Linked DNA regions of Homo sapiens. The protein of the gene in region 3 interacts with the protein of the main gene of each other region in a pairwise test. Each region holds a gene or a part of one and is shown on either strand. Other genes may lie near its edges.

The links.
Region 1: the proteins of PKP4 (region 3) and PAXIP1 interact in a two-hybrid assay, tested with the Homo sapiens proteins (one large-scale study listed by BioGRID).
Region 2: the proteins of PKP4 (region 3) and PGAM1 interact in a two-hybrid assay, tested with the Homo sapiens proteins (one large-scale study listed by IntAct).

Annotation. Positions count from the first base shown.
Region 1 is NC_000007.14:154,968,507-154,972,164, reverse strand, and holds part of PAXIP1 (PAX-interacting protein 1), read left to right. Parts: exon of another isoform or gene 1-958; intron 959-2,076; exon of another isoform or gene 2,077-2,111; intron 2,112-3,038; coding exon 3,039-3,658.
Region 2 is NC_000010.11:97,431,528-97,434,062, reverse strand, and holds the end of PGAM1 (phosphoglycerate mutase 1), read right to left. Parts: intron 1,709-2,535; coding exon 1,539-1,708; 3' UTR 619-1,538; downstream 1-618. UniProt on the Homo sapiens protein: Catalyzes the interconversion of 2-phosphoglycerate and 3-phosphoglyceratea crucial step in glycolysis, by using 2,3-bisphosphoglycerate. Also catalyzes the interconversion of (2R)-2,3-bisphosphoglycerate and (2R)-3-phospho-glyceroyl phosphate.
Region 3 is NC_000002.12:158,463,427-158,467,084, reverse strand, and holds part of PKP4 (plakophilin-4), read right to left. Parts: intron 1-3,658. UniProt on the Homo sapiens protein: Plays a role as a regulator of Rho activity during cytokinesis. May play a role in junctional plaques.

The DNA.
Region 1 (3,658 bases), on a different chromosome or scaffold from region 3:
TAAAGTTCCTTAAGTTTGTATTTGGATATAGAGACAAAATAATTTACTTTGAAATGGAAAGAATTGACTGCAGTAGGGAGTTTGGGCACATCTCTGCACTGGAAATTGTCCTTAGGAGACAAATTTGATATACTCAGCTGTGTGCTCTAGCGGTGGAAAACTGAGAAGGCTCCATCCATTTCTAGTGAGTGAATGGATTTGATCACTAGTGAGAAGAATTGCGGAGATTTTCTGAGAGACTTTCAGCAATGCAAGAGAACATAAGGACGTTTTACTTCTAGATGTGAAGAAAATGACTGAAACTTTAGAAATATGAGACAGATTTAGTTGAACATTAGATTGTTGGGGGGAGTGTAACTTACCATCAAAATCCTGTTTAAATTGCAAATTTATAGTGGTTAGAAGCCATGTGATGTGTATCATACTGCTTTCTATATATGGCATTCAGTAACTCAGTATTAATGTAAATGAGGATTATGACAGTTGTGATGGAAAAATTTAAACTTGACATTCATTCAGAATTGTTTGTAGTATAGCACAATTACGTAATTGAGCAATTAAGATTCTTTTTCTTACGTTCTCCAGGACTAACATGTTTCCAGCCAGAGGCAGATCAGATGGTTGAAAAAGTGATCGGATGAATGTGGTAGGGGTTTTGGGAGGCATCTCGATGGCTGGCCTTGCAGATTTCTCCTCTCCATCCAGGCCTGCACCTCTCGCTTCCTCAAGTGGAGAAGGTTCCAGGCCAACGGCCATCTTCATTCCTAGCCGGGACTCTTGTCCTGAATCTCCATCTGTTCTTCTCCCTTAATGGGGTGGGTCAGCAGTGGATGAAGACCCATCTTAACTCAAGCCCGTAGTAGAAACAGCTGTTAAGTTGCCTCCTGTCAGCAGTGGATGGGCTGGGTCAGCAGTGGATGAGGACCCATCTTAACTCAAGCCCGTAGTAGAAACAGCTGTAAGTTGCCTCCTGTCCTACCTAGGCCTCCCTCAGCCCTCTGAGATCAGATGGAGCACTTTCTGCAGGCAGCAGACCCTGCTGAGTCCTCTTGGCCAATCTGAAAAATAGGAGCCTCTGGCCTCTGTGCTGTCCTGATGTCTGCTGCTGTGTTTGTCTAGGTCCTGTGCCTGTTCCTGAGCTCCCTTCCACCTGGGCTTGGCAGGTACAGAGAGGCGGGGAGCAGCATTTGGTAATGACTAGTTCAGCCCTGTCCACCTGCAGACGGGCATTTATTTCTTTACCATCCCTCAGAGTTCCATGGGCTGTTTACATATGAGGGTGAAAAAGTAATATGTGTACAAAATTCAAAAATTCAAATGATACCAAAGGACAGAGTGAACAGTTAAACTCTCAGCCCCCCTCCCACCCCTCGCTGCTGTTTACCTTCTCAAGAGGCAGCCGCTGTTTCCAGCAGTTTGCCGTGTAGGGCTCATGGCTGGTGCCCACCAGGCAGGCAGGTGCCCCACACGTGCATGCTTCTTAGGGGGTGTTTGCACAGCACCAAATGCTGCTGGGCTCCATGGGGTGGCATGTTGTGGGGTGAATTGTCCCATCTTCTTTTCTGGATTTTTAAAAATACTTTTAAATATGGAGATGAAACAGTTGTCTTATTATTTTGTTTAAAAGACATTTTTCTGCTTAGAGTTCCACTCAGGTGTTTCTGAAGTCTTGAATCCTTTTATAGAGATGTCTCATACATAAGGTGATTTTAGAGATGGGTGTGCCCAAGCTCTTGATTTTGACTTATTTCAATTCTAAACTCCCTTATTTATTACTAAATCCAAAATCTGTTACCCTTGCAGGTCATATAATCTTTGCAATTTGGAATCTGTTTAAGTGAAAGATACATGTTAGAATATGTTTGAGATTTTGGTATAGTTCTGATATGTGTTAAATTCCTAGAATTTTATTTAAATTTTAAATGCTTTTAATAGGGTTAAAAGTTGTATGGATTGAGTTAAGTAAAATCTATTTTTACTGATTTCCATGACCATAAGAAGTTGGTTTCAAATTTTTGTTGCTTGAGCATGTTGAACAAAATTCATTGTATAATGTGTATCTCTTGTTGTATTCAGTGCCCTATAGGATATTAAAAAAATAACTTACTCTGCTTGGTGGGCATCTGCTGGTCACCGTCCTTCTCCTACTCCTCAGCGTACACAGAACTCTCAGCTTATTCCCTGTCATTGTGAAGCAGAAAGAGCTAGAAGACAAATAGTCTGGTTTGAATTCTTTTTTTCTAGCTTGAAATATTTTTGTGTCCCCCATGAAGACTCAGTCATTTTTGAGGAAGCATCATTTCCCAGCTCTAATGATGAGTCCTTAGTTGGGAGGAACATCACCATTTAAACAGCCCCGGTGGTGTCTTAGCTGGCCTCCTTTTCCATAGCATGCCAGTGCACATAGCAAGTTGACAGTGGAGCGAAAGGCTCTTGGACTCACAGCTTGGGTCATGCTGCTTTCATCTGGAAGGTGATCCACTGAGAACCTTTGTTTACTAGACTCTGGGCTGTAAGACAAGAGGAAATGGGAAGTGGCAGCTGTGGCGAGAAGGTTTGAGGTGAGGCTGAGCCCGATTACCAGATGCCTTCACCACCTGTCATTCCTCAGTGCATTCCTGGGCCAGGAGAGGGTCTGCGGAGCTGATGCAGGCGATGGGCAGTGGAGTGGTGCCGCAGCACGGTGCAGGGAGCACCAAGGCTTAGCTACCAGGTGTGCACAGGACTCCCATGCCCTGCTCTGGCAAACACATCAGCCGTCTGAGTCTTTGTCACTTTAATTCGTTAGTTTACTCCATTTTACTGATGTAGTTTCAAATTTTGGTGGTCTCAATATATGAATTTACTTTACGATATTGGCGTTACAAAATAAATACAAAAGAAAATGCAGTATTGTTTTTGCAGTTTCCAATCATTTGCTGTGTCTACTTAGTTGAATATTGTTAATAAATAGGATATGCCATTCTCTTGACTAAGAAATTATCATTCATCTGTTTCAGGAACTGTTGATAATGTTTCACCTAACTTTTGTTTTGTAGATCTTACAGACTCTTTCAGCACCTACGAAAAATTTAGAACAGCAGGTGAATCACAGCCAGCAGGGACATACAAATGCCAATGCAGTGCTGTTTAGCCAAGTGAAAGTGACTCCAGAGACACACATGCTACAGCAGCAGCAGCAGGCCCAGCAGCAGCAGCAGCAGCACCCGGTTTTACACCTTCAGCCCCAGCAGATAATGCAGCTCCAGCAGCAGCAGCAGCAGCAGATCTCTCAGCAACCTTACCCCCAGCAGCCGCCGCATCCATTTTCACAGCAACAGCAGCAGCAGCAGCAAGCCCATCCGCATCAGTTTTCACAGCAACAGCTACAGTTTCCACAGCAACAGTTGCATCCTCCACAGCAGCTGCATCGCCCTCAGCAGCAGCTCCAGCCCTTTCAGCAGCAGCATGCCCTGCAGCAGCAGTTCCATCAGCTGCAGCAGCACCAGCTCCAGCAGCAGCAGCTTGCCCAGCTCCAGCAGCAGCACAGCCTGCTCCAGCAGCAGCAGCAACAGCAGATTCAGCAGCAGCAGCTCCAGCGCATGCACCAGCAGCAGCAGCAGCAGCAGATGCAAAGTCAGACAGCGCCACACTTGAGTCAGACGTCACAGGCGCTGCA
Region 2 (2,535 bases), on a different chromosome or scaffold from region 3:
GTAACAATAAACAGTTAAAAAAAAAAATTCTGAGGCCTGCACGGTGGCTCACACCTGTAATCCCAGCACTTTGGGAGGCCAAAACTGGCTCGAGACCAGCCTGGGCAACTTGGCAAAACCCCGTCTCTACTAAAAATACAGAAATTAAGCAAGCATGGTGGCACATGCCTGTGGTCCCAGCTACTCAGGAGGCTGAGGTGGGAGGCTTGCTTGAACACAGGAGGGGGAGGCTGCAGTGAGCTGAGATCATGCCACTGCACTCAAGCATGGGCGACGGAGCGAGGCTGTCTCAAAAAGAAAAAACAAAAAGCAGACTTTACTTACTCTAAAGAGGATATAATGGAGTTCAGAATGTGACTTTCCAATCAGGGGAGCACCAAGCAAGAGCTGCAGGGGGCAACGTGAATGGAGGGCTTGGCCAGGAGGGCCTCCCACCACCACCTCAGCTCACCAGGCTGACGTGAAAACCCCAAGGAGATGCGTCATTTTTTGACCAACCGTGTAAAGTTGTGACTGGATGTCCTAAAACAAACTGCCACACAAGGACTAGGGCAGTGAGAGACATTTCAAGTTAAATGCTAAAGTTTCCTCAGATAAGGTCTTCCACATCACACAAGAAGCTATTGCACATCACTCCTTTATTATACTGATATGGAAAAAGGATTTAGTACAGTTATGCTCAGATGAACACTGGACCCATGTGGCAGGGTCAAGCAACTAGAACATGATTCAGAAATCAGTGAAAGATACACTTGGACAGGACCAAGAGGCATTTCACTGCCATGAAACAAGGCAGGAAGGGATTCTAATACACACACCAGGAAGCACTCCTGCCCCTCAGAGGTCAAGGAGCTGATCCTATATTGGTATGAGGAATGGCTTATTTTCTGATGACCACATGTGGGACTATTTCAACCGCCACAAGAAACCCCAGAAGGGTTATTGTTTTGTATTATATATACTATACTTTTTTAATAAAAGTAAATTAACACATAACGAAATTCAGGATTGATCCCAACCTAGAGCCAGATCCTCTGGGGTCAGGGAGGAAACAGTTGTCACATCACCACGCAGGTTACATTCGTCTTCCACTGGAATGACTAGAGCCCCCAGGCAGTAGGCAGTGACCTGACTGCAGAAGAGCAGAGGACAGACTCCGCTCATGGGGACAGACAGGCTCTGTTGCTTCTCCTCACTGGTCATGGCTTAGCATGGTTCCTCCCCAAAGTCCTTAGTAAACAAAGCACTCGCAAAAACCCAAGTCACTACTTTTAAACTCTGTTGGATAAGGGGAGCTTTTCCATAGCTTAGACTGAGAACCTGTGCTCTAGAACTGCTATTCTGACTAGATTGTATGAAGGGAGTGGGTGCAGGCGACAAAATGGCTAAAATGAAAATGGGAGCCACTGGTCCCCGTCTGCAGCTACAACTCAAGATGTCTACAGATGTGGTCAGTGTGACATGTGCAGGTGGGAGGGGCAGAGGGACAAGACGGGCAGGGAGGGTGCTCCTGGGGACAGTATCCTCCCCGCCGGCCTTCACTTCTTGGCCTTGCCCTGGGCAGCCACAGCTTCCATGGCTTTGCGCACCGTCTCTTCATCCCCCAGAAACTGCATGGGCTTGATAGGCTTCAAGTTCTTGTCCAATTCATAGACAATGGGAATACCAGTCGGCAGGTTCAGCTCCATGATAGCCTCTTCAGAGAGACCTGAAAACATCCACCATCATCAGCCACACAAGACATAAATCCACATCACCCCTCCAGGTTTACTTTGTCCTCCAGGTGATAAAGGACTTTGACAGAAATTAAAATAAGACACCCTTTCTGATCTTTATAGTAGTTCTGAACCCAGGGAATGGCCCCCACCATACTTATTTCTCAGCCATTAAACTGAAAAGCAAGAAAAGGTATACAAGATAGACCACCAACAAACTACAGCAAGGTATATGGCCAGATATCTCTACCAAAGTGGGATCTAGAAGCCCACAGTGAAGCAAGACTACACATCTCAAATACCCTGTACAGCCCATCCAACCAAAAATCAGCACACGTGGGCCTCTAGGCCCTCGGGGATGAAGATGCAAATTGAGATTCATGTGTAAAGTTGTGCCTGGTTGTGACTAAGGAGAATTTTTTCTTTTATATATATTTGTTTTCCTTTTTTTTTTTTTTAAGAGACAAGGTCTTACTCTCTCACCCAGGCTAGAATGTAGTGGCACAATCATACCTCACTATAACCTCAAACTGCTGGGCTCAAGCGATCTCCCGCCTCAGCCTCCTGAGTAGCTGGGACTACAGATGAGCATCACCACATCAAGCTAATTTTTCATTTTTCTTTTGTACAGACAAGGTCTTGCTTTGTTGCTCAGGCTGGTTTTGAACTCCTGGCCTCCCAAGGTGCTGATAGTACAGGCATGAACCACTGTGCTTGGCCTTTTAAAATTTTGTAGAGATGCAGTCTTACTATGTTGCCCAGGCTGTCTCAAACTCCTGGCCTCAAGTGGTCCTCCTGCCTTGGCCTCCCAAAATGTTGC
Region 3 (3,658 bases):
AACTAGGTCAAAACAAGCTATGAAATTTTGTTTCATTACTCTTAACATTTATGTAATTTTATAGTACCAATAACCCTTAGCATTTTTGTAACATTTCCCCTTTGAAAAACTTCATGTGCTTTAAATTATATCTACTTCTGTCTTAACTCTTCAACTGAGTATACAAAGATATTACTGATTCACAAAAGGTACAGATACAGAAAGTTTGCTCAATATCACACTTTCAAAGCTTAGCTTAGTCTTGGTGCTTGATTGGTGCCTATTAGTAGTATGATAAAGAGCATTATGAAAACTCATCTCACTATGGTTATAATCCAGGCAATTAAGTTTAAAATGAATATGAACCAATCTGTTTAAAATCTTCTAATTAATTTCTTTTTGAAATGGAGTTTCGCTCTGTCACCCAGGCTGGAGTGCAGTGGTGCAATCTCTGCCCACTGCAACCTCTGCCTCACGGGTTCACGTGATTCTCTCACCTCAGCCTCCCAAGTAGCTGGGACTACAGGCGCCCGCCACCACGCCTGGCTAATTTTTTTTTTTTTGTATTTTTAGTAGAGATGGGGTTTCACCATGTTGTCCAGGCTGGTCTTGAACTCCTAATCTCAAGTGATCCACCTGCCTCAGCCTCCCAAAGTGCTGGGATTACAGGTGTGAGCCACTGCACCCAGCCGTTAATTTCTTTACTAAGGAATTTGGTATAATGAATTATTTATCTAGCAAGTTGTATTAGAAAAGCATTTTTTTAAAGTCTAAATAGTTTTTTCCTTTGAAACATGCAGGATAAATGGTATCAGGGTCTCAGACCAGTTTACAAAAGGACAGAGGATAGGTACTAGGCACAAACAGACACGATTATCCAAGAGTAGCAGGTGAAGGTGTTCAAAACTAGAATTCAAACTCATTCATTCACTTAAGGTATGTAGAACCACTGGAGGTCAAGATTTAAGTCCTGTAGAAAGATAAAGTCCCTGCTGTTGAGTAGCTTAGAGCAGGACTATTTTCCCATGGAACTGATATACTATAGTTACACTACAGGACGGGAGATTTATGGATTAATGTTGCTTCTGTGAAAAATTATATTCACAGTTCTAAATAATATTTTGGAAGACTGACACTTGCCGATATACTATCCGAAGATTTCAGACTGACACTTATTTTTCATCTGTTGACAGTCTGAATTAGACCTTTAACATCTGAGTTGTTTATCACAGGTCTCAGACTAATAGTATTAATAGTTCTTGTGAAGTCCAGTTGGATTTTGTGATTCCTTAGTCAGTGCCTTTTTTAAACAGACTTACTGCTTATGTAGTTGTCGACAAAATGACAGTAAGTGAAAAATTCCCATCAGTGCATCATTCTGAGATTCAAAGTAAGATTCAATGAGACCATTTATTCTAGCATACATCACGAGAGATTTTGAAACATTCTGTTTATTCATAACAATGGGAGGGAATATTTTCAACAGCAAGTTTGGGCTTATAAAGGCACACAAATTACATAGAGAATAAAAGAAAAGCACAAAACACAATAAACGAAAATACTGCTGCATGAAAAATAAAAATAAGAATGTAATAAAATGGCAGGTCTTACAGCATAAATTATGGTTTCTCATAAATCATGTATTGTCATTATGATTAATTATTTCACATAGGCTATATGGTAAAGTGTTTCAAGAGATACAGCCAAAATAATCAAGTTCATGATTAAAACTTATTTTGAAATCACTATTTATCTTTGGTGCAGACTTTTCCCAAAGAAAGCTAATGAGAGTGGTTAGTGCATATCTCTAGAATCGGGTAATTTATCATGTAATACACAATTAAGCAAGTAGAAGTATGAGCTACAACCTAGTTATTTTATAGCTCATCCTTAATACTTATGAAACAATGTTACATGCTTATTTATATACCAACATTTCTAGGACAATCTTCTCTACCTCATGTGTCTTATCTTTCCCAACCAGACTGAAAAATGTATCATGGATTCCTTAAAGACCGAGACTCCCATTACTGAATCTAACACAGACAGTAAGTATCCCTGGAGGAAGTCATCTTTTTGGCCATAAGGCCTATCAGTCTGATATGGAGTAGGGGACTAAAAAATGTTGGTTAAAATGAACTAAAATGAATCATTTCAAATAAGTAGTATCGTTTTAAATAAGTATGCAAAATGAAACACAATACTGCACACACAGCAGGACTCCAACAAATATCTAAAGTACTAATTGTCTACAGTCCCCTCACTTGCACCCCTAGTGGTATACAGGAATAAAGTTACCTTTAATTCATCAAACAGTCCCTGTTTCCCACTCAACTCAGGGTACAGGTGTCAGAACACATGATCCATTTCACTGCAAAGTGGTAAATAATGGTTTCTATTTTACATGAGTGTTTACAATTCTCATGAAGGTATGGGAACAACAGCCAGTTCTTCAAGGGTTTATTTTGATCGTGACATTGACAATTCATTTAATACTGCATACAATAGTAGTATAATTAATGCTTCCCTTTGCAAATAATGTGCTTATTGCATTAGCAAAGGGGAAGAGCTAACCTCAATATTTTTAAACAATTGTTTTATAGATAAATACATACTAGAGTTCTATACGGATTTTTTTTCTCCACAAAGGAAGAGAACAGGGTCTAGGAGAAACTTTCATCACTGAATTTTTAAATTACTTTTTATAGAAGAGCACAAATCCAAGTAAAAAATTCTCCTCATGAAATCTGCCACAATTTCTGAACACTGGTAGATTGTCTATATGTAAAAATTAGACTTGAATGAAAAGTCCCTCTATTCTATGAGATATGGATTGACGAGTTCCCTATGAACCTAAAGTATTCATACAAAATGTTTTCAGAGGAGCAACTCTGTCAGTTGTTTAACTTCTCTGAGGACAAATCAAACCATCTGAGCAAGTAAGAAGTGGATCTTTCTCACTGTAACAAGACTAGTCCCTTCTAACCACCATGCTAAATCCCCTTTCTTGTTTCTATCCAACTTCTGAAAAATGTAGTCTCAATCAGAGGTGAAGCCTCCAATGTGCACAGGGGACTGGTTGTAGACAAGTAAGTCCCAGAAGTCAGGGCTGTGACAAACTGCAGATGTGCAGCTCCATAAAGGCTCACTGCTCAGCTCCTGCCCCGAGGGGCCCCAGGGATCCTCACTCCTGGAGCACTTCACCACTACCGCACAAGACACGGAGCCACTGACTCAGCCACAGAGGGGTCACAGGTTTGTCTGGCTGCGACACATATTTTCAGGAGCTGAGAATTTCAAGTATACAACTTCAATTTTCCCTCCTTATCCCAGAGGGTAAATTGTCATAAATCCTTGGGAAGACAGCATATTCTTGCTGAGGAAAAAATGTAATGGCTTGATGTTCTAAGAGTTGCGAAATGTAAGTACTAGAGGGACTCTAGAGAGCATCTAGACCAACTCCCTCATTTTATAGACAAGAAAACTAAAGCCCACGAGAGTTACATGATGTGCTCATGGGACACACACCTGCATAGTGGCAAAGCCAGGACTAGAACTAGAGCCTCTTGATATCTATTTAACCACTGTCTGTTGATTTATATCATGTATATTCCAAACCCCCTTCCTCTTTTCTAGCCTTTCTTGATTTGGGAGTCTCCTGCTGATTTCAAATATCCTT